Regions from separate parts of the Homo sapiens genome. Here all the other regions are linked to region 2. Evidence: fine-mapped expression QTL. A gene starts in region 2. Each other region holds a variant in brackets. All regions are shown on one strand. Distances are from middle to middle.

The links. PIP is the estimated chance that this variant, and not a neighbour inherited with it, causes the effect.
Region 1: its variant is fine-mapped to the expression of SP100 in whole blood (TOPMed, PIP above 0.99).
Region 3: its variant is fine-mapped to the expression of SP100 in whole blood (TOPMed, PIP above 0.99).
Region 4: its variant is fine-mapped to the expression of SP100 in whole blood (TOPMed, PIP above 0.99).

The regions. Positions count from the first base shown.
Region 1 is chr2:230,471,331-230,476,330 of GRCh38, reverse strand. SP100 (SP100 nuclear antigen) reads right to left here. Exons shown (of 29, transcript NM_001080391.2): 16 at 2,891-3,007; 17 at 1,884-1,937. All of the region lies in intron 3 of LOC101928816 (a long non-coding RNA gene), which reads left to right. Among named protein-coding and RNA genes, the nearest start is that of SP100, 58 kb to the right of the region's middle. The variant C/T (reference allele first, on the strand shown) is at 2,890.
Region 2 is chr2:230,413,435-230,418,654 of GRCh38, reverse strand. It overlaps SP100 (SP100 nuclear antigen), which reads right to left and starts at 2,454. Exons shown (of 29, transcript NM_001080391.2): 1 at 2,327-2,454; 2 at 990-1,064. The coding sequence starts at 2,358. RefSeq lists an enhancer at 2,288-2,807.
Region 3 is chr2:230,455,553-230,460,552 of GRCh38, reverse strand. The region is part of intron 8 of SP100 (SP100 nuclear antigen); the gene reads right to left. All of the region lies in intron 3 of LOC101928816 (a long non-coding RNA gene), which reads left to right. Among named protein-coding and RNA genes, the nearest start is that of SP100, 42 kb to the right of the region's middle. The variant T/C (reference allele first, on the strand shown) is at 2,945.
Region 4 is chr2:230,533,393-230,538,392 of GRCh38, reverse strand. The region is part of intron 24 of SP100 (SP100 nuclear antigen); the gene reads right to left. Among named protein-coding and RNA genes, the nearest start is that of SP100, 120 kb to the right of the region's middle. The variant G/A (reference allele first, on the strand shown) is at 2,125.

The DNA of each region.
Region 1 (5,000 bases), 58 kb before region 2:
AATCAAATGAAGAACACAGTCCCATTTACAATAGCCATAAAGAAAATGAGATCCCTAGGAATTCATCCAGCCAAGGAGGTGAAAGATATCTACAAGAAGAAGTACAAAACACTGCTGAAAGAAATCAGAGATAGCACAAATAAATAGAAAATTATTCCATGCTCATGGATTGGAAGAATCAATACAGTTTGAATGACTATACTGTTTAAATCAATTTATAGATTCAACACCATCCTTATTAAAATAAAAGCGTCATTTTTCACAGAATTAGAAAAATCTATTCTAAAACTCAGTTGGAACCATAAAAGAGCCTGAATAGCCAAAGCAATTGTAAACAAAAAGAACAAAGCTAGAGGCATCGCGTTGCCCAACTTCTAACTATACTATAAGGCTACAGTAATCAAAATGGCATGGTACTGGTACAAAAACAGACACATAGACCAGTGGAACAGAACAGAGAACTCAGAAACAAACCTGCTCACTTACAACCATCTGATCTTCAACAAAATCAACAAAAATAAGCAATGGGAAATGGACTGTCTATTCAATAAATGATGCTGGAATAACTGGCTAGACATACGAAGAAAAACGAAACTGGACCCATACTTCTCATCCTATACAAAAATTAACTCAAGATGGATTAAAGATTTAAATGTAAGACCTAAAACTATAAAAATCCTAGAATAAACCTAGGAAATACCCTTCCTGACATAGGCTTTGGCAAAGAATTTATGGCTAAGTCTCCAAAAGCAATTGCAACTCAAACAAAAACTGACAAGTGGGACCCAGTTAAACTAAATAGCTTCTGTACAACAAAAGAAATTACCAAAAGAGTAAACAGACAGCCTTCAGAATGGGAGAAAATTTTTGCAAACTGTGCATATAACGAAGGTCTGATATCCAGAATCTACAAGGAACTTAAACAAATCAACAAGCAAAAAACAAAATCCAATTAAAAAATGGGCAAAGGACATGAACAGACACTTCTCAAAAGAAGACATACAAGTGGTCAACAAACATGAAAAAAATGCCCAACATTACTAATCATCAGATAAATGCAAATCAGAATCACAGTGAGATACCATCTCACACTACTCAGAGTGGCTATTATTAAAAAGTCAAGAAAATAACAGATGCTGGTGAGGTTGTGGAGGAAAAGGAATGCTCATACACTGTTGGTGGGAGGGTAAAATTAGTTCAACCATTGTGGAAGACAGTGTGGCAATTCCTCAAAGACTTAAAGACAGAAATGCCATTCTACCCAGCAATCCCACTACCTTTAGGTATATACCCAAAGGAAAATAACTTGTTCTATCAAAAAGATACACGCACTCATATGTTCCTTATAGTGCTATTCACAAAAGCAAAGACACGGAACCAATCTAGTTGCCCATCAACAGTGAATTGGATAAAGAAAATGTGGCACACATATACACCATGAAATACTATGCAGCCATAAAAAGAATGAAATCACACCCTTCGCAGCAACATGGATGGAGCGGAGGCCATTATCCTAAGCAACTTAATGCAAGAACAGAAAACCAAATACTGCATGTTCTTACTTACAAGTGGAAGCTAAACATCGAATACACATAAATGTGAAGATGAGAACAAGAGACACTGGGGACCACTAGATGGGGCAGGGGGAGAGGGTGGCATGGGCTGAAGAACCATCTGTTGGGTACTATGCTTACTGCCTGGGTGATGGGATTTTTGGGACACCAAGCCTCAGCATCACACAATTTACCCATGTAACAAACCTGCAAATGCACCCTTTAATCTATAATAAAAGTTGAAAAAAGAAAATGATGATAATAAACCTTAGCATTAAAAAATAGTTCATTTGTAACATAAAAATTAAGTAAATTCTTATTTGTTCTTACTTCTTTTCCCACTGTGTTTTTCCAAAGTAGAATTGTTTTCAACATCCATGGTATCTAGAAAGTGACAGGTAGTGGTCAGAGAACTGTAATTTATAAGTAAAATTTATAAATCTTATGACAATTCACACTGCATGGAAGGCTTGCGTTTATAACAATATTCTGAGTATAATTTATCTGTCTTCCTTCCAAAGGAAACAGACACTGAATTGATGTCTAAGGTCTTCGTCTAGTTCTCTGAGACTTTGAAACAGCTCTTCATTACTTTTATGCACCAATTTCCTCATTTATGAAACAGGGACAGCAACGGTTATCCTGTTCAGCTTTAAAATTTTTATGAATATTAAATATCTTACTTGCAAGAGTTAATAGGAAATCACTATATAAATCAATAACAGTCCAGAGGATATCTTTCAAAACAATGTATTTTTAGCATAAGAGTAGGTATCTGATTTTTCTTTCCTGACAGGTAGCAGGACTATTTGTCTTTTTAGGCCTTTCCAAAGTTGTGACAAAATGACACTATTACCTGTGAGTGGAAGAACATGTTTTCTTTTTTTTTTTTTCAAGAACAAGGATGGAACTCGCTTTATAAATTCAACACTTTACTATTGATATGCTAATATAGTGAGATACTACTATGTTTACCAGTGTATTTTTTTACCACCTAACCAAGAGAGCCCATTCTGTTAAATATGGCTTTATAATGATCTCTTGCCTCCCTGCAGTTCCCAAAAGGGTCGGGTTAAGCAAATGTAGAGAACAGGATTCTGGCGGCACCAAACCTGTTCTTTGTCACAGTCTGCTCACAGTCAAGTGCAGCAGGAAACCGGGACTATGATTTCAGACTTTTGAAATTCTGAAGCTTGGGGCCTGTGGGCCCACTTCCTGTTGGTGATCCAGAGGCTGTTTCATGCTTTGCTTCAACTCTGATCACTTCCCACATCCCTACCCAGTGTCTGTGATATCCACTGAGCCACTTCCATCCCAAGACCCTAGGGTAGCCTTA[C/T]CCATCATGTCAGATGCTTGACTACTTTCAGTCCTTGCTTCTTGGCTTCTTGGCACACCTTTTGGAAAACACATGACACAGGAGCACTTCTTATTTTCAGGTTCTTGTGGCTGTGATCCTAAATTGTGATTTGTAAACATTTTTATTTGTGCCCACTCCCCTTCAAAGATTCTCCTTCCCCCCAACATTAGTGACTGCCCACTCCCCACAGCTAAATTAAGGGATGGGCTCTACATCTGAAATCTCTTTTTCTTTTGTGGTTCCTCACTGTATTTTTCCCTTCTGTTCATAAATAACCCTGAGAATTTCATCTTGAAATAAAGGGTCAATTAATAGTTTGTTTCAGTGATGAAGAACACTGGAGGAGCAAAGGCTGGTTTTAGGGAAAAAGATGATGTGCTCAGTTTTGGAGGTGTTAAGTTTGAAGGTCTTGAGTAACATCCAAGTGGTGAAGTCTAAGGCCTTCAGAATCTCCAACAGGAGCCTTCTGACACTTGGATGAATGAGTTTAGAAGACAGGGCTGGCTGGAGATACACATGTAGGAATCATGAGGTTGTGGGTGGTGACTGAAATCACAGGAGTGGATGAAATGCCTGGGTGAGGCCTTTTTTAATCTGGGTGAGTCAGAGGGGCCAGGGGACACCTTATTCTGAAAACTTACTGCTATTGTGAATCATGCCTTGTGCTAAAGTTGCTTTTATCTCATGGTCATTTCAGATCCTACAATTTCTCCATCATTCTCTTCTCTCCCATTTACACTTCCCCCTTCTTGCCTCCATTTTTCTCTCATCTTTTAATTCTTTCTCTACATACTTCTTGTTGTACCTAATTTTTTACACCACTCATCACCCTTTGAATGTATCTCATTCCACCTGTTTTTCTGTTTATATCTTTAGATCTAGTTTTATTATTGAGGTGAACTTCTTTCTACTATCACTTCCTCCTTCTATTCTCTCTTCTAGCTTGTTTCTCTGAATCTTGTCTTGACTTTTTTTTTTTTTTTTTTTTTTTTTGAGACGGAGTCTTGCTCGATCGCCCAGGCTGGAGTGCAGTGGTGCGATCTTGGTTCACTGCAAGACCTGCCTCCAAGGTTCACGCCATTCTCCTGCCTCAGCCTCCTGAGTAGCTGGAGCTACAGCTGCCTGCCACCATGCCTGGCTAATTTTTTTTGTTTTTAGTAGAGATGGGGTTTCACCGTTTTAGCCAGGATGGTCTTGATCTCCTGACCTCGTGATCCGCCCACCTCGGCCTCCCAAAGTGCTGGGATTACAGGCATGAGTCACTGCGCCTGGCCCTTATCTTGATCTTGACTCTTTTTGCAATTTCAATCTTTGTCTTTATCCACATTTTCTTCATCTATATTCATCTTTATCTCACAGGTTATTACTTTCATCACCAAATGCCTGCTGTTAGGACACTGACCACATAGCCATCTCTATTACCTTTGTCTGTTCTTTATGAGCTTTCTACCTTGCAAGGCTGTCAATCAATCAGCAACTTTATTTTCACGTTTCTGGTACAATTTCTGAGAAGTGTGTTGAAAATTATCCCTCCCTCCCCCACAAAATTCCCCTACCTGGAATATTTGAATTCCTTGTCCACTTAGAAAAACTTGAAGCTGACTCTTATATCTTTTCATTTGGTGACTCTAGCCTACCTTTCTCCATTCTTTCTCCTTACTTTATCCACTCAGTGTCTCCTCCCTCCATTCAGGAGCCCAGCTCTTCTTTTTCTTTTCGCTCCCTCAAACCTGTCGCAAGCAGCCCGAGTCTGTGCACAAGTCTTTGTGTGTGTGGTGTGTATGTGTGTGTGCATATGTTTTGGGGGAGAGGTAAGGAAAAGAAAAAAGAACTTTTCCTCCATGCAAGTAGGAAAAAAAAGATAATTAATAATGAACTGAACATCATAATCGGCTTCTCCATCACAAGCTAATGGGCTGCATCTCTTCTGACTCTCTTTGTGTATTCATTGGAGGAGCTCTAAATTCACAGGACAATGAAGACAAACAAGGAAATAATAGACTATAGACAGTGACGAGGAAACCAGGGAACCTGTCTCAATGTGGTCATGCTGAACTATTTTCAGAGCTTAAACGGACTGACAAAAAAAT
Region 2 (5,220 bases):
GTAGCTCAGACAAAAAACAATTTGATCTCAGATAAAACAGGGAATGTTAAAAAAAAAAAGAAAAAAAGTTCATCCAGATTATGACTAAGCAAACGGGAAGTTTGGGGTGACCTGCCCTGGCCAAGCCTGGCTAGAGGAGCTGTAAAGCCACCACAGGCACGTGGAACACAAGATCAGACAGAATCAGTCTGGAAAAATAACTAAGAGACAACAAGGAGAATATCCCAAAGTTCTTAACAGCACAGGCAAACCTAAATAAAGCAAGACTGTGAAGACTGAATGACAAGAGGTTATGGAGCTTGCAGGCGTACAGAAACCAATTAAGATCCCTCCTCAAAAATAAACACTATCAATTTTTAAAAAATTAGAAATGACAAGAAACAAGAAACCTACTAGAAGGTAAATAATTGTCATGGAGGAAAAGTTTGAGACAACTATTATGAACACAAAGTGAAAGACTGAAAAGATGAAAACGGGGCAAATAAAAGCTGTGAAGGCTAAAGTGGCTCCAATGTAAGAATATTTTTGTTTAAAAATTTAAAAAATTTTCAGAGATATTAGAGGAGGAACTCTTCCTGGAATAGCGGTAGCAGCGAATCTGCCACCTTAACACAGAAATAATTGTAAAAACTAAGAGTGCTCACAGAGGGTGTCAGCATCACCTCGTTTATAACAAGGGTGCATCTATCTTAAAAAAATCTGTATCACAAGAGGCCTATATGTTAAGTTTTAAGCTTTAATAAGATAAAAGTCACCATAGACAAAGGTAATGGACAAGAAAAGTATATTTATACTTACAGAATATTTAGTGAATTCTCCCATATCACGAAAAAAAGGACAAACACCTCAACGGAATCATATTGGCAAAAAACAAACAAGCAATTTATAGAAGAGGGAATTTAAATGGCCAAGAAACATGAAAAGCTGATCAATTTTCCCATCGTAAGGAAAATACAAATTAAAACAAGACATAACTCTTCATTCATCACCTTTGCAAATCGTGGCTGTGTGCAGGAAGATGGTTCATCTCATTTGCTACTGGTGAAATACATTCATTCAGCCTCCTAGAAAGACAATTTGGCAGGACCAAGTAAATAACTGGACCCTTTGCCTCAATAATTACATTTTTAAGGTTTAGAGACAAGATAAATATTTGTTTAGATGTAAAAACCCAAAAAGAAATATATAATCATTGTTATGATAGCTTATTGGTAAATGTGAACAATTTAAAAACAATCTAAATGTCCTTCAATTGGAGAATAAATAATTATCATATATCAATTCTATGGAATAGCATGTATAAAAAGAATGAGGCAGATCTATATGTATTAAGGTTAAAAGATCTCTAAGTTTTCCACTATTAAAATAAGTAAAAATGCAAAATGCAGACTAGCACATGTAATATAATTTATTATAAATCAAGAACATAAATTACGTATTTACAAAAAATGCATTAGATATATAAATGCATAGAAAAATATAAGAAAAGCTGTGCCCAAGACTCTTCACAGGACTGGGAAGAGAAGCTACAAGAATGGCTGAGTGGCAAAGATGACTTTTTCCTTAATATACTTCTCCACTGTTTTAAATTTTATGAACAATAATGTACAGTGTATTTCTTTTGTATTAAAAAATTTAAAAGATTAAGTAATGTTATTTCTCAACTCACTACTAGAGAAAAGTTAGGATTTCCTTCTCTTTTCTGGTCAGAGGTATCCCCCATCTTGGGACAGGAAATTGAGGTAAAAATGAAAATATTTAGCCGTTTGTCACCCTGGGCCTTTTTCTTCCCTTTCCTTCTTTTGATCAAGGTTGATGGAATAAGAACTCAGACCCTGAGCCAGTCATGGGAACAGCCGGCAGAGGCCCCTTGCCAGGACAGGTGAGACCACAGCGTCTGATGTTTAAAAGTAAGCCAGGTGTTTACCCTGGAGTGTTTATTTTCTAAAGCACCTTTTTTGACATGACATATTTGAAGGTAGAGGAAGGCTGAGGGGTGAAAGGGTTCACAGATCATGAGGAAATAGTTAATCCCAGCCACCAACAACTGCTATGTTTAGAGTGTCCCGGTCAGCTGAGCAGTAAATCCAAAACAAGAAAGTCACGTGTGTTATGGCAAGTTGAACTCACACCAACAGCTGTCCTGCTCCTGTTTAAAAAATCTGATTTCCTCATTACTTGTCTTTCATTTCATTATATAACATCGCATACCTATGTTCTTGCAAAGAAGGATTAAAGTGAAGCCTTAGGCACAAACTGAACTAAAGGCATGAAAGCTGCAATATAGCCAGAGATAAAGGTTAAAGGAAGGGAGATAAAGACTCACCTGGTGCTCAGGTCGCCGCCCCCACCTGCCATCTTCCCACCCTAGGCCCTGCGTGGGCCTCAGAGCCTGGCCTCTGAGCCCCTCAGTCGGCCCAGCCTGCGTGCAGTGTGGCTGCCCAGGCCCCAAGCAGGAAGTCGGCCGACAGACTGACTCAGAAAGGGCTCCGCCCAAATGGGGAAAAGAGAAGTGAAAGTATTTAACCTCCTTCTGGGCTACGGACACTGTGTTTCTCCTCCTTTTTCACTCCAAGGGATTCTCAGCTTTTCTGAAATGTGGCAGAGGGTTGGAGGAGAGGCCTGACAAGCAGCAAGACCTGCAGGACCAGGGAAGGAGGGCCCAGGGGACGAGCAGGGCCAGCTCCCGGGTGTCCACTTGTTTGTGCAATACACAGCCAAAAAAAATGTCCTTGAAACAAAATTGTCCTTAGCTGCTCTGCCCTCTAAGAGGGGGCATAGTTTACATGGGAGTTGGGGGGGAAACTCCATGTTTGCCCCTTCCCCTTGCTGACATGGCTTGGGGTGGGAGTTGGAGGGTTGGAGGGAAAGCCAGAAACCTCAAATCTTCTCTCAGGCCCATGGGAGAGCATGGACTGGACTAAGGTAGGTCCTGACATTGGGACCCAGGGCTGGAGAGAACCAAAATGCTCAGCATTATAACCTGGGGAGAGTGTGCTTAGCCTTCCTGGAAATCAGCCAGAAGTAAGAGAGAACTCTCCACACCCCTGGGACCAGAGGCTGGAGCCAGCATGGTAAGAAAGGCAAACATTTTAAGGGGCAAGGGTTTAAGGAATCTTGACTATGGGGCCGCCTTGGAACAGCCAGGGGTGAAGAGACACCTAAGCTTCGGAGAAGTCACTGGAATCTTGAGAGAACAAAAGCTTCTCATTGGAGGAGGATGGAGGTTGGAACCCAGATGATCTAGACATGGAAGGGCAGGGTGGCTCCCGCGGGAGGTTCTATCTCTGCCCAGATTTTCCATTTAGATTCTGATTCATCATTCCTCAGAGAACAAGAAGCGACCGAGAAGACTCGCTTTACATCAGTATAAAGTCATAGGTAAAGAAACAGAAGCAAAGGGCGCATGAGAATGGGGCCACAGGACACAACCAGGGACCAGAACTCCAGGCCGGACCATGGGGCAGAGACAGGGAGGCAGCTGGGAGCCTGGGGGCGCTGGAATCCAGGGCCCAAGGTGAGCAGAGGGTGGAAGCTGGTGAGGATTCAGGGGCCAGAGGGGATGGCACTTCAGAACGGTGTTTTCCAAATGGCATTCTACTGAATCCAACTTCTTCCAGCTGTGAATAAGGATGCTTGTCCAGGTACATTTGAAAATGTGGGGGAAGGGGCTTTCTACCCTCACTCTACTTCTGCTCTTCTTTTCCCCATGAGTGAATGACCAGGCACCAGGACATTGGTGAGGACAGCTTTGCCGGTGGGCGAAGGTCACTGTTTCTATCAGGCACTGCACACCTGTAGGTCTCTCTCTCTTTCTCTCACCTGTAGGTCTCTCTCTCTTTCTCTCATTCTTCCTACCCCCCATGACTCCCCGACTTTATGGGGCTGAAGGGCTGGTAAGCTGAGCCTCTTTTGGGCACAGCTGTCCTTTGATCCCAGTCTCCATGAGGCACATTGGTCCCAAGAAGTCCTGGCATGGACCACACAGTATGCTTTGGTGTGGTTCACGTTCTCCCCTCTCGCTGCCTCTGGGCAGCAGGCAGGCTCAGGCCATTGAGTGGCACTGACATAAACGTGCCAGCTTTTCCCTGGATGTGCTTAGGGGCTACTAAGAGCAGCACCTGGAATTCCAGACCAATGAGCCACAGGCTGGCAGGGAATTCCTTACGGGTTGAACTTCACGGGCAGACATGCCCATGCTGGGGCACCTCCTGGCAGCAGGGAAGGAGATGTTCTCATCAGATGAGGTTGGAGACAGATGAGCATGCACCATGCTCCGCTGGTATATGGAGAATCTGTAGGCCTCTGTGAAGAAAGCAAAGTTTCTCTGATCCAGAAAACAATGTCAGACACACTGGGGTTGGGAAAGGGACGGGACCACATTAAGAAGACATGTGAGCTAAAAATCCTGCTGGACTGTTTAGAAGGAAATAATGGAACTCCTGGGGCATTTTCCATGGCTGCAAGGAGCACAGGCAATAGGGAATATTTCTGTTGTCAAGAAGTAGTTCCAGTTACTGGAGCCTGGAAAACTCAAAAGCAGGGGAGGCAGTGATTGAGGAAGGACCACAGGCAGGGCACCCAGCCAGATGATGGGCCTCTTACATTTCACCAAGAGCAGCTTCAGTTCAGACTTCAGTGGTGTGGGTGAGGCAGGAGAATAGGGTCTGGAGGCAGGGAACCTAAGGCCATTTCATGCTAACTTCCTAGAACTAAATTGAAAGGAAAACCCTAACTTTCCATGCCTAAGTAACAAAAGGTCCAGAGGCTACTCCCTTTGCAAACCCCCACCTTTTCTGTGGGGCAATGGGAAATGGAAAGTACCTGTGTATAGTTGTTTTTTGCATAGGAGTGTAACTTTGTAACTTTACTTCAGCCTCTGATGGGTTGCTGTCTGCAACCAATCAGACTGATTGCAGGCCAAGTCTTCCTTTGCATAGAAGTACAACTTTGTAATTTCACTTTAGCCTCTGATTGGTTGCTTTCTGCAACCAATGAGATGTTTGCACAGGAGTGTGACCTTTGTAACTTCACTTCAGCCTCTGGTTGGTTGCTTTCCTCAACCAATCAGACTGATTGCAGGCCGCCACTTCATTTACATGAGGTGAGCACCAAGTGGTCAATGGGAAACCTCCAGGGGGTATTTGGACCAGAGAAGATTCTGTATGCGGGACCGTTGAATACTGCTTGGGCCTGCTCCCACACTGTGGAGTGTACTTC
Region 3 (5,000 bases), 42 kb before region 2:
TTCCCATTAACTGTTTCCACTAACTTGCTCAAAGACAACTACCATTGAGGTTTCCAACACTAAGGTTAATTTTGCTTGTTGTGTAATTTATAAAAATGGAATAATCTCTTTTCTCTCCACTCTTTCTTTCTCCCTTTACCTCTCTCTCAATATATATAGATCTCCCAAAAGAAGCCAAATCCCCCAAAATTGTATGGATATTTTACTCAACATGCTTGTGAAAGTCATCTGTATTCGTTTTGTATAATTATTTTCACTACTAGATAGTATTCCATTATAGAAATAAGCCATGAATTATTTATTCATTTGTACAATTTCAAGCATTTGGCTTCTATGAATAATGCTGCCTTGAGCATTCTTTTCTATGTGTTTTGGTGACATAACACACATTTCTGTTGGTTTCTGCTGAGGAATATAATTGTTGGGTTATAGGGTATGTATATTTTCACCTTTGGAAGATTACCCCAAACTGTTTTCCCAAAAGCATATATAAAGGCAGAGATGAAAGAAAGAGAGCTTGGCAAATTCCAGTAAGTAAAGGAAGCTTAGTGTGGTGGGAATGTGGCATGAAAGGGCGAGAGGTGGGTGACGGGGAACGCGCAGGTGCGTGGTAGACATCCTTCAATTCACCACTCCAAGCAGTGTTGATCTACTGCTAAGGGCCACACGAAGGCACTGGGTTTCAAACAGGAAAGTCATATCAACTGGTTTCTATTTTGGAAAAGTCCATTCAACTGAAGTGCAGACTTGAGAGGAGCAAGACTGGGGGCCAGACAGGAGACTGTTCCTCTAATTTTAGTGAGAGTGACAGGGGTCTAGATTAGGGTGTTCGTGCTGGGGATGAAGAGAAATGGACAAGTTAGAGATATTTTAAAGTTGGGATTGACACAAGTGGCAAATGAAATGATGATTGTTTTAAGCCACTAAGTTTCAGGATAGTTTGTTACATGACACAGCAATAGATGACAGATGCAGCTTCCAAAGAGAGATGTTCTTCAGGTCTTTAAATAAAGGTCTTCAGGCAATTGGGGAAGGGAGTCAACAGGACAGGTCTGAGCTGGAGATGTATGTTTAGAAATCAACAGATCTTAGATGGTGATTGAGCCATGGAGAGGAAGTGATGCCTGAGGAGAGGCTTATTGTAATCTGGGGGTGGAGGTGGAGTCACAGGGGCCATTTTGATAAGAGGGCAGCTGATCTTTCTCCATAGTAATAGGACACCCTGTGCCTCCTTTCTAGCTCTTATCTCCTCAGATCAGAGAATGTCTTGATTTGTCTTCTCTCTTCCCTTCTTTGCATGATCCACTCTCTACCAATTTTTCATTCATTGTCCTTTAACTCATTTTCTGCATACTTCTCTTTGTGCCTCCCTCCATTTTTCCTATTTCTTGGTATTTATTTCCCTCTATGTTTTTTCTATTCATAGTCTTTTTATCTACACTTTTTAAAAATTATTGTCTCTTAGAGACAGAACCAGGGTGAGGTGAAGGTGGTGCTATGGGGTGCCTTGAAATTTAAGGAAGCTCAGTCTCACATGCCAAGTGAGGTCTCCTTACATGCTGTGCCCTGGGGGCCTCCCTGCCTCACCTCGTGCCAGGCCTGTTGTCCCATATGTAATGTTGCATCTCTGTTACATTTCCTACCTGCTTTGAGTCGGCCCTTATTTCTTAATTATTAACGTTACCTCTGCAAGCTTCTTCTATGTCACTTTTTTTTCAAAAATACTTTCGCATCTGATGTGTGAGTGCTATATCACTTTTTGTCTTTCTATATCTTCCTCATCTCAAACATTCCCATCATTACGAAAGGTCTCTTCCAGTGCCATTGTCTACCACACCAGAGGCCCTCCACTTGCCATTCCTTCCTGAAGGTCTTTCACCTGGGCTTCCTTCCTTTGCAAATCTGACAAGCAGCATCATGCATAATTTCTACGTTTTCATGATAACTTCTGAAAAGTAACTTGCAACATATTTCTATTCAACAACTCCACAACATGACAATGTATGGATACCATGTCACTTTATCTAAAATCTGTCTCACTCATACACAGTTGACCCTTCAACAACAGGGGCTTGAACTACATGAGTCCACTTGTATGCAGATTTTCTTCCACCTCTGCCACCCCTCAGACAGCAAGGCCAACCCCTCCTCTCCTTCCTCCTTCTCAAACTACTCAATGATGAGGATGAAGGTCTTTATGATTACCTATTGCCACTTAATGAATAGTAAATATATTTTCTCTTCCTTATGATTGTATTAATAACATTTTCCTTTGGAGATCTTACTTCATTGTGAGAATACAGCACATAATACGTATGGAAAATATGTGTTATCATCTGTTTATGTTATCAGTAAGGCTTCTGGTCAACAGCAGTTGTTAAGTTTTGGGGAATGTAAAAGTTATGTGCAAATGTTTGACTGCATGGGGCATTGGTACCCCTAACCTCCCACAGTGTCCAGGGGTCAACTGTGTTTTGTTATTTAATATTCCCTAGTTGACCTCTTTTGTATTCTTTCTTCTTGCATTCTCTAACCAGGGACAGTCCCTCTGTTAAAAAGACTCACTCTCTTTTTCCCTTCCATCTCATACCTGTTAAAAGCAGCCAGAGGCTGTGAACAAAGTCTGTGTGTCTTGGATGAGTGTAGGCAGTTAGTATGAGAAAACAAAGGGAAGTTTTGCCCTTATAGAAAAATAAAGATATAATTAGAAAATTGGGGAGAAGTAGAGCAAGATGGGAGAATAGGACTCTCCAGCCCTCCATCCCCTGCAGAAACACTGATGTGAACAACGACCTATGCATGAAAATACCTTTGCAAGAGCTGAGGAAACCAGATGAAAGATCACAGCACCTGAGTGAAACACAGAAATAAGAAAGAGCACATTGAAAAGGGCAGGAAGAAAAGTTTCACTGTGTCATCTTCCCCAACTCCAGGAAGCACAGCA[T/C]TGAGCAAGATACAATATGCTTGGGGAAAGGAGAAGGAAGTGAGCACCAGACTTTGCCTTACACCCAAACCACAGAACCGACTTCAGTAAAACCCAGCTCCCAAAGCCCCAGACTCTAGCCAGTACCCATGGTCTGAACCTCCAAGCTCACTCTGACCCCAACCTAAATCCTGCAGCCCCAGGACTCAGGCCAGCCCTGCGAACTCAGTCTTCAGCCTCCTACAGCACTATTTCAGCCTCAGTGAACCCATGATCCAGACCAGACCGAGTGCCAAACTGGACCAAGTGGCACTGGGCTTGAGGCCCATCCTAGCAGCAAGCTGGCTTCAATAGCACTGGGCTTCATGCCTACTGAAGTGCCTGAAGAAGCCTGCATCAGTGGTGTAGAGCCCTGCAGATTCTGGCTCAAGGTTTCCCCCAGCACAGACCTGCCCACTGGTTGTCCTAGGCACCAGACTAGCCTGCTTGAGGACTCTAGCAGCAAGCCTGCCCTTGTACCATGCCAGATGGCCATCTTAGAATCTTTAAATAGGGTGAAAGGCTTTCCCAGACAAAGTCAGCCTGCAAAGACTAGAATAGTTTCTACTTTCTCAAATGTACAGACATAAATGTAAGGCAACAAGAAACATAAAAACCAAAGAGACACAACATGACCAAAAGAACACAATAATCTCCCCATAGCAGACCCCAAAGTAATGGAGATAACAAACTGCCTTATGCAGAATTCAAAATAATTGTTTTAAGGAATCTCAGCAAACCTTAAGAAAATATAGGAAACAATTCACTAAAATTAGGGAGACAATAAATGACCAAAATGAGAAAGTTTAACAGAGATATTGAAATTATTTAAAAAATCAAACAAATTCTGGAGCTGAAAAATACAATGAATGAAATTTAAAAAGGCATCAGAGAGCATCAACAGCAGAATTGATCATGCAGAAGAAAGAATATGAACTCAAAGACAGGTTATTTGAAATACAATCAGAGAAGAAAAAGAAAAGAGAATGAAAAGTCATGAAGAAAGCTTACAGGATTTATGAAACACACCAAAAGAGCAAATATTTGAATCACAGGAATTCATAAAAGGGAAGAGAAAGACAAAAGTAGAAAGTTAATTTAAAGAGATAATAGTATAAAGCTTTGCCAATCTGGTGAAAGACATAAATTTCCAGGTACAAGAAGGTCAATGGTCTCCAATCAGATTCAGTGCAAACACGACTACACCAAAACATACTATAATCAAGCTGTCAAGATTCAAGGACAAAGAGAGAATCCTGAAAGCAACAAAAGAAAAGAAGCAACTAACATATGAGGGAGTTTTAATAAGGACAACAGTGGACTTTTTAGCACAAACCTTACAGATAAGGAGAGAATGAGATGAAACATTCAAAGTGCCAAAGGAAGAAAAAGAAACCTGACAACCAAGAATACTTTTCTTGGCAAAGCTGTCTTTCAGAAATAAAGGAGAGATAAAGACCGTCCCGGGAAAACAAAAGATGAATACATTCATTACCACCAGACCTGTCTTACAAGAAATGCTCAAGCTGAAAGAAGTAAATGCTAACTAATAATATAAAAATATAAGAAAGTATAAAACTAACTGGTAAAGTAAATATATAGTCAAAAAATAGTAGCTACAATAATTTTTTAGAGTATACACTATATAAAACTTGTAAACTCTGACATCAAACATTTTAAATGAGGGAGCAAAGTAAAAGTGCAGTTTTTGTAGGCAATCAAAATTAAGTTGTTATCAGCTTAAAATAGCCTGTTATAAGATGTTTTGTGTAAACTTCATGTTAACCACAAAGCAAAAACTTACAGTGATTACACAAAAGATAAAGAGGAATCAAAGTGTATCACTAGAGAAAATCACCTAATCACAAAGGAAGACAGTAAGAGAGAAAGAAAGGAATAAAGAATCTACAGACAACCAGAAAACAATAAACAAAATGGTTTTAGAAAGTACTTACCTATCAGTAATTATATTAAGTGTAAATAAATTAAATTCTCCAATCAAAAGACATAGAGTGGCTGAATGAATTTAAAAATCATG
Region 4 (5,000 bases), 120 kb before region 2:
GATGCTGACCACTATTTTTAGGCTGCTGGGTCAAGGTTTCTGATACATCATCCTATAAAGTACACTGCAAGTGGGCCCCAAGAAAGAATAAATACCACAGGCAAATCCTATGTTTGAAGTTCCATTGTCTAGAAAGCCTGCAAACTTGGTGTATGTCTCTTTAACCTTTTTAGTAAGAATTTTTTTCTTTTGCTTACAAGTGGTTCTCAACTTGCTCTACAGTAGAATCCCCTGGGAGCATTAAAAAACATCTCTGGAGCCCCATTACCAGAGATTTTGATTCAGTTAGTCTGGGTTGGTGTATAGGCATCAGTATGTCTTAAATATTGTCCAGATGGTTCTAATGTGCAGTCAATAGTTGAGAACTCTGGCCTCTAATGCAGTGGTCTCTGGACCAGCAGCAGCAGCACCTGGAACTTGTTAGAAATATACAGCCTTGGGCTCTGCCTCTCACTTGCTGAATCAGAAGCCTAGGGGTAGCTCCTAGCCAGCTGTGGTCTATGAAGCCCTTCAGGTGGTTCTGATGGACCCTACACAATTGTGGCAATTGTGATCGAACTGTATTGCACTACAGTGACTCACAACTTTTCTTGTGCTAGAAAAACACAAAACACCAGAGGAGCTTTGGAAACACCAATTCTCAGGCAGCACCTCAGACCAATAACATCAGAATCTTTGTCAGGCGGTTGCGGGGGATCCCCAGGTGATTGCAACGTGCAGCCAAGGTTGAAAACCCACATTACAAAGTGGTTTCTCCTGAGTAAGGGCTGGGAGGTCATAACTAGAGTCATTAACAGCCTACAAGTTTGTCTAGGAAAGTTTTTGAAAAGGGGTGAGGACTTCCTTGCTGGAAGAGTTGCCTTTTCCTCTTCACAGAGGGCTTGGCTGTGGGCTGTAAGAAATGGCCCTATGGGTCTCCCTTAGTCATCAAACAAGTTATGCAGACCCCAGAGATGAGAGCTGTTTGACTACTGAAGGGTCTCACCTCCAGCAAAGAAACAGAAACAGTGTGGATTGATCTAGATCTTGCTAGGGAAGAGCATTGGCTAAGAAAATAGAGGGCATGGCAACTTCTTTTCTATCCCCTCTCAATTAGTGTCCTGTACCAGTCCAGCTGCATGGCATTTTTGTTTTGAGACAGGGTCTCACTCTGTCACCTCGGCTGGAGTGCAGTGGTGCGATCACAGCTCACTGCAGCCTCAACTTCCTGGACTTAAGTAATCCTACCACCTCAGCCCCTGGAGTAGCTGGGACTACAGGTGTGTCCCACCATGCCTGACTAATTTTTGGTATTTTTTGTGGAGGTGGGGTTTTGCCATGTTGCCCAGGCTGGTCTCAAACTCATGGGTTCAAGTGATCCTCTTGCCTCAGCCTCCCAAAGTGCTAGGATTGCAGGCATGAATCACTGTGCCTAGCTTACATGGCATTCTTACAGCAAAAGGTGCTCCTTGCAGTTGTGCAAAAGGCTGACCCTGCCTAAAATGCTCATCTCATTGCAATGAAAAGAATCAAAATGTGACTTTGTTTAGACAGGGAAGTCACCCATGATTTTGTTATTGAAATACCAGGGGTTCAGTTTAGGTCCTGCTGCTTGCCACGCAGAAAGCCAATCACTGAGACAATGAGTATTGCCAAGCAAGAAGGCTTTAGTCGGGTGCTGCAGCCAAGGGGATGAGAGATCAGTCTGAAATCTGTCTCCCTGACTCACTAAAGTTAGGGGTTTATATAGCAGAAATGTATCTATATTCAGGGAAGCAGGAATTAGGGAGTGGTAAGGAGGAATTGGTTAACAGGAAGGAGATTATTGGTTAGGCAGTCATAAGGGGTGAGGAGTTTGGCATCTCATTGTCCAAATACAGTAATCTGGTGAGTTTCAGTCCCTTGATGTTATGTGGGGGTCTGACGGTTGGTTTCCTGAGAAAGAACTCAGATAAGACAAATGTAACTCTCTCAAGTTTTAAGACTGAGAGGGTCAATTTCTATGTTTATTCAAAATAAACTGTAAAAATCAGATTTATGGGACAATTGGGTTCATTTCAGTGCCCCTTTTCTGTTTATCAATTCCTCAATCATGGGGAACTGGTTGTCAATCTTTCTGGCTGTTTCATGCTGATGAGGAGTGTC[G/A]TGGGCAAATCCATACCATGGGTGACCCACATAGCCACCCAAAAATCAAAAGTTAACTGAATACTATAGGTTTCTTCTGAAACACACTCTTTTTCTCTCCAGTCTCCCACTTCCACTAAAGACAAATCACAGCAGGACCAACCTACCTGCCAAATAAGCTTCAGTCCCATATACTTGGCTTATTTGCCCACACAAAGTGCAGCAAGAACCATTGTCCATGTAGGCTATCTTAAACTGGCTTTGCTGGAACCTCTCACAAGGCCATTTCAGTCAAAGCCCTGGGAAAATGACCAGTTCCTCCAACTGTGTCTCATTATAAAAGAAAACATATTCTTTTTTTTTTTTTTTTTTTTTTTTTTTTTGAGATGGAGTCTTGCTCTGTCACCCAGGCTGGAGTGGAGTGGCATGATCTTGGCTCCCTGCAGCCTCCACCTCCCAGGTTCAAGTGATCCTCCTGCCTCAGCCTCCCGAGTAGCTGGGACGACAGGCATGCACCACCACTCCTGGCTAATTTTTGTATTTTTAGTAGAGACGGGGTTTCACCATGTTGGCAGGCTGGACTCAAACCCCTGACCTCAAGTGATCCACCTGCCTTGGCCTCCCAAAGTGCTAGGATTACAGGCATGAGCCAACACACCCAGCAGAAAACAGATTCTTATTAAACATACGCAAACACATTGCCATGAATTAATAATATTCACAAATAGTTTATGAATTCTGGAGAAATTAGGCAGAGAGAGAGAGAAATATGCCTCAAACTTAGTTTACAAGAGTAATGCTCCTCTCAATTGTTAAAGGCAGCAATGTTTCAAACAAAAAAAATCCATAAGAAATTATTTCTGGCCTCCATTTGTTCAGTGTAGGCAACTAACTCCTGCTCTGCTTCATATTAGGTTAGTAAATTTTATGAATGTATCAGTTTTTCAGTTAGTTTCTTGGACGTTTTCTCTCTCTAATCTAATGAAACAACCTCCAAAGTCATCAGAAACCTACATTCAAAAGTCCTTTTCATGAACTCCCCCAAAGAAGCAAACCATGGACTGTAGCTGATTATAAGATACTTTTTTTTTTTTGAGATGGAGTCTCACTCTGTCGCCCAGGCTAGAGTGCAGTGGCACAATCTCGGCTCACTGCAACCTCCACCTCCCAGGTTCAAGGAATTCTCCTGCCTCAGACTCCCGAGTAGCTGGGACTACAGGTGCCTGCCACCATGCCCGGCTAATTTTTTTTATTTTTAGTAGAGACGGGGTTTCACCATCTTGGCCAGGGTGGTCTCGAACTCCTGACCTTGTGATCCACCCGTCTTGGCCTCCCAAAGTGCTGGGATTACAGGCGTGAGCCACCATGCCCGGCTGATTATATGTTACTTTTTGAGAAGAATCAATGCAAAATAACAATAGTGGATGTCAAAACTCTTAAGCAAGCCATAGTTAAAGACACAGTTGATGAGGAAATTTGGTTATTTCTGTGACATATAACAATTCAACATAATAAGCATAATTATTACTGATGGCATATATTAAAACATGCAAGAATCATACAATCCTGGAACACATATTAACAACACATCTATATAAATATAACCCAAAAGAAGTTGACCACCACCTCAGATGTGACAACGCTTTCTGCATAATTCTAATGTAACAAATAAGTCAATAAGTCTAGTATGTCTCTCTTGAACTTCAGGGAACCTAATGTGCAAATAAGTTAGTTTGAGGTCAAAAAGGCCGAATTTAGAACTTGAAATTTTTACTCTTGGAAAGTCTGTCAAATATCAAAGTTTTAAGACATTTGATATTACAAAATAGGATCACAGGTCACTGTAAAGTAGTCATTGATTTAGCTAAGACTTCTCTTTTTTTTGAGACGGAGTCTCGCTCTGTCACCCAGGCTGGAATGCACTGGTGCAATCTCAGCTCACTGCAACCTCCGCCTCCTGGGTTCATGCCATTCTCCTGCCTCAGCCTCCCGAGTAGCTGGGACTACAGGTGCCCACCACCACGCCCGGCTAATTTTTTGTATTTCAGTAGAGATGGAGTTTCACCATGTTAGCCAGGATGGTCTCAATCTCCTGACCTCCTGATCCACCCACCTCAGCCTCCCAAAGTGCTGGGATTACAGGCGTGAGCCACCGCACCCGCTGACATTTACCCTTTTCTAGGGAGTAGACTCAGTTTCCCAAACAATGAAACCTAATAAAGACAGCATGAGGCCACCTAAATGTCTTTTTCCTCCTTTTTTTGCACCCTGTAGTTATTCAAAAGGTAAATAAAAATATTTCATTAGCTCTCATATGAAAATTTTGTTCAAAAGAGAAAACCAAATTTCACCTTTGTATAGTGTATTACTAATATTAAAAGTAATTTTTAAAACCTTATAAACAATTTTAATTTTATCAGTTTGTTTGTAGAGTAAGATCTCCATAAACCTTTTACAATCTTCTATTAAAGAGCCGATTAATGCTCCAGGAAAATGCTGTTATTCTGACACATGGGCCTAGACTCTGGCCTTGAATCAGTGTGCTTTTGATATTAATATTTAATTTATAGAAAACCCTCAAATCTCACATGTCCACATCTGCCATGACAGTCCCTTGGCCTAGACAGATTGAATAGTTTTAATTTCTGGCCCAGTGTCTCATGAAAGCAGTTCATTTTGACTGTCATTTTCTCCCAGGTCTGAAGATGAGGCTTAAACTAGGGTAATGTTCAAGATTTAGCAGAAGTAGGTGCCTTTTTCAGACCCAGAAGTTAAAGCCCTGTAACTTAACAGCACAAGGATTGGTTAAGAGGACATTTATGCTGCAGAAAGTCCTATCATTTTCTGTGACATGTCACAAACACTGTGATTTAGTGTCCAGTAGTTATTACTTCCTA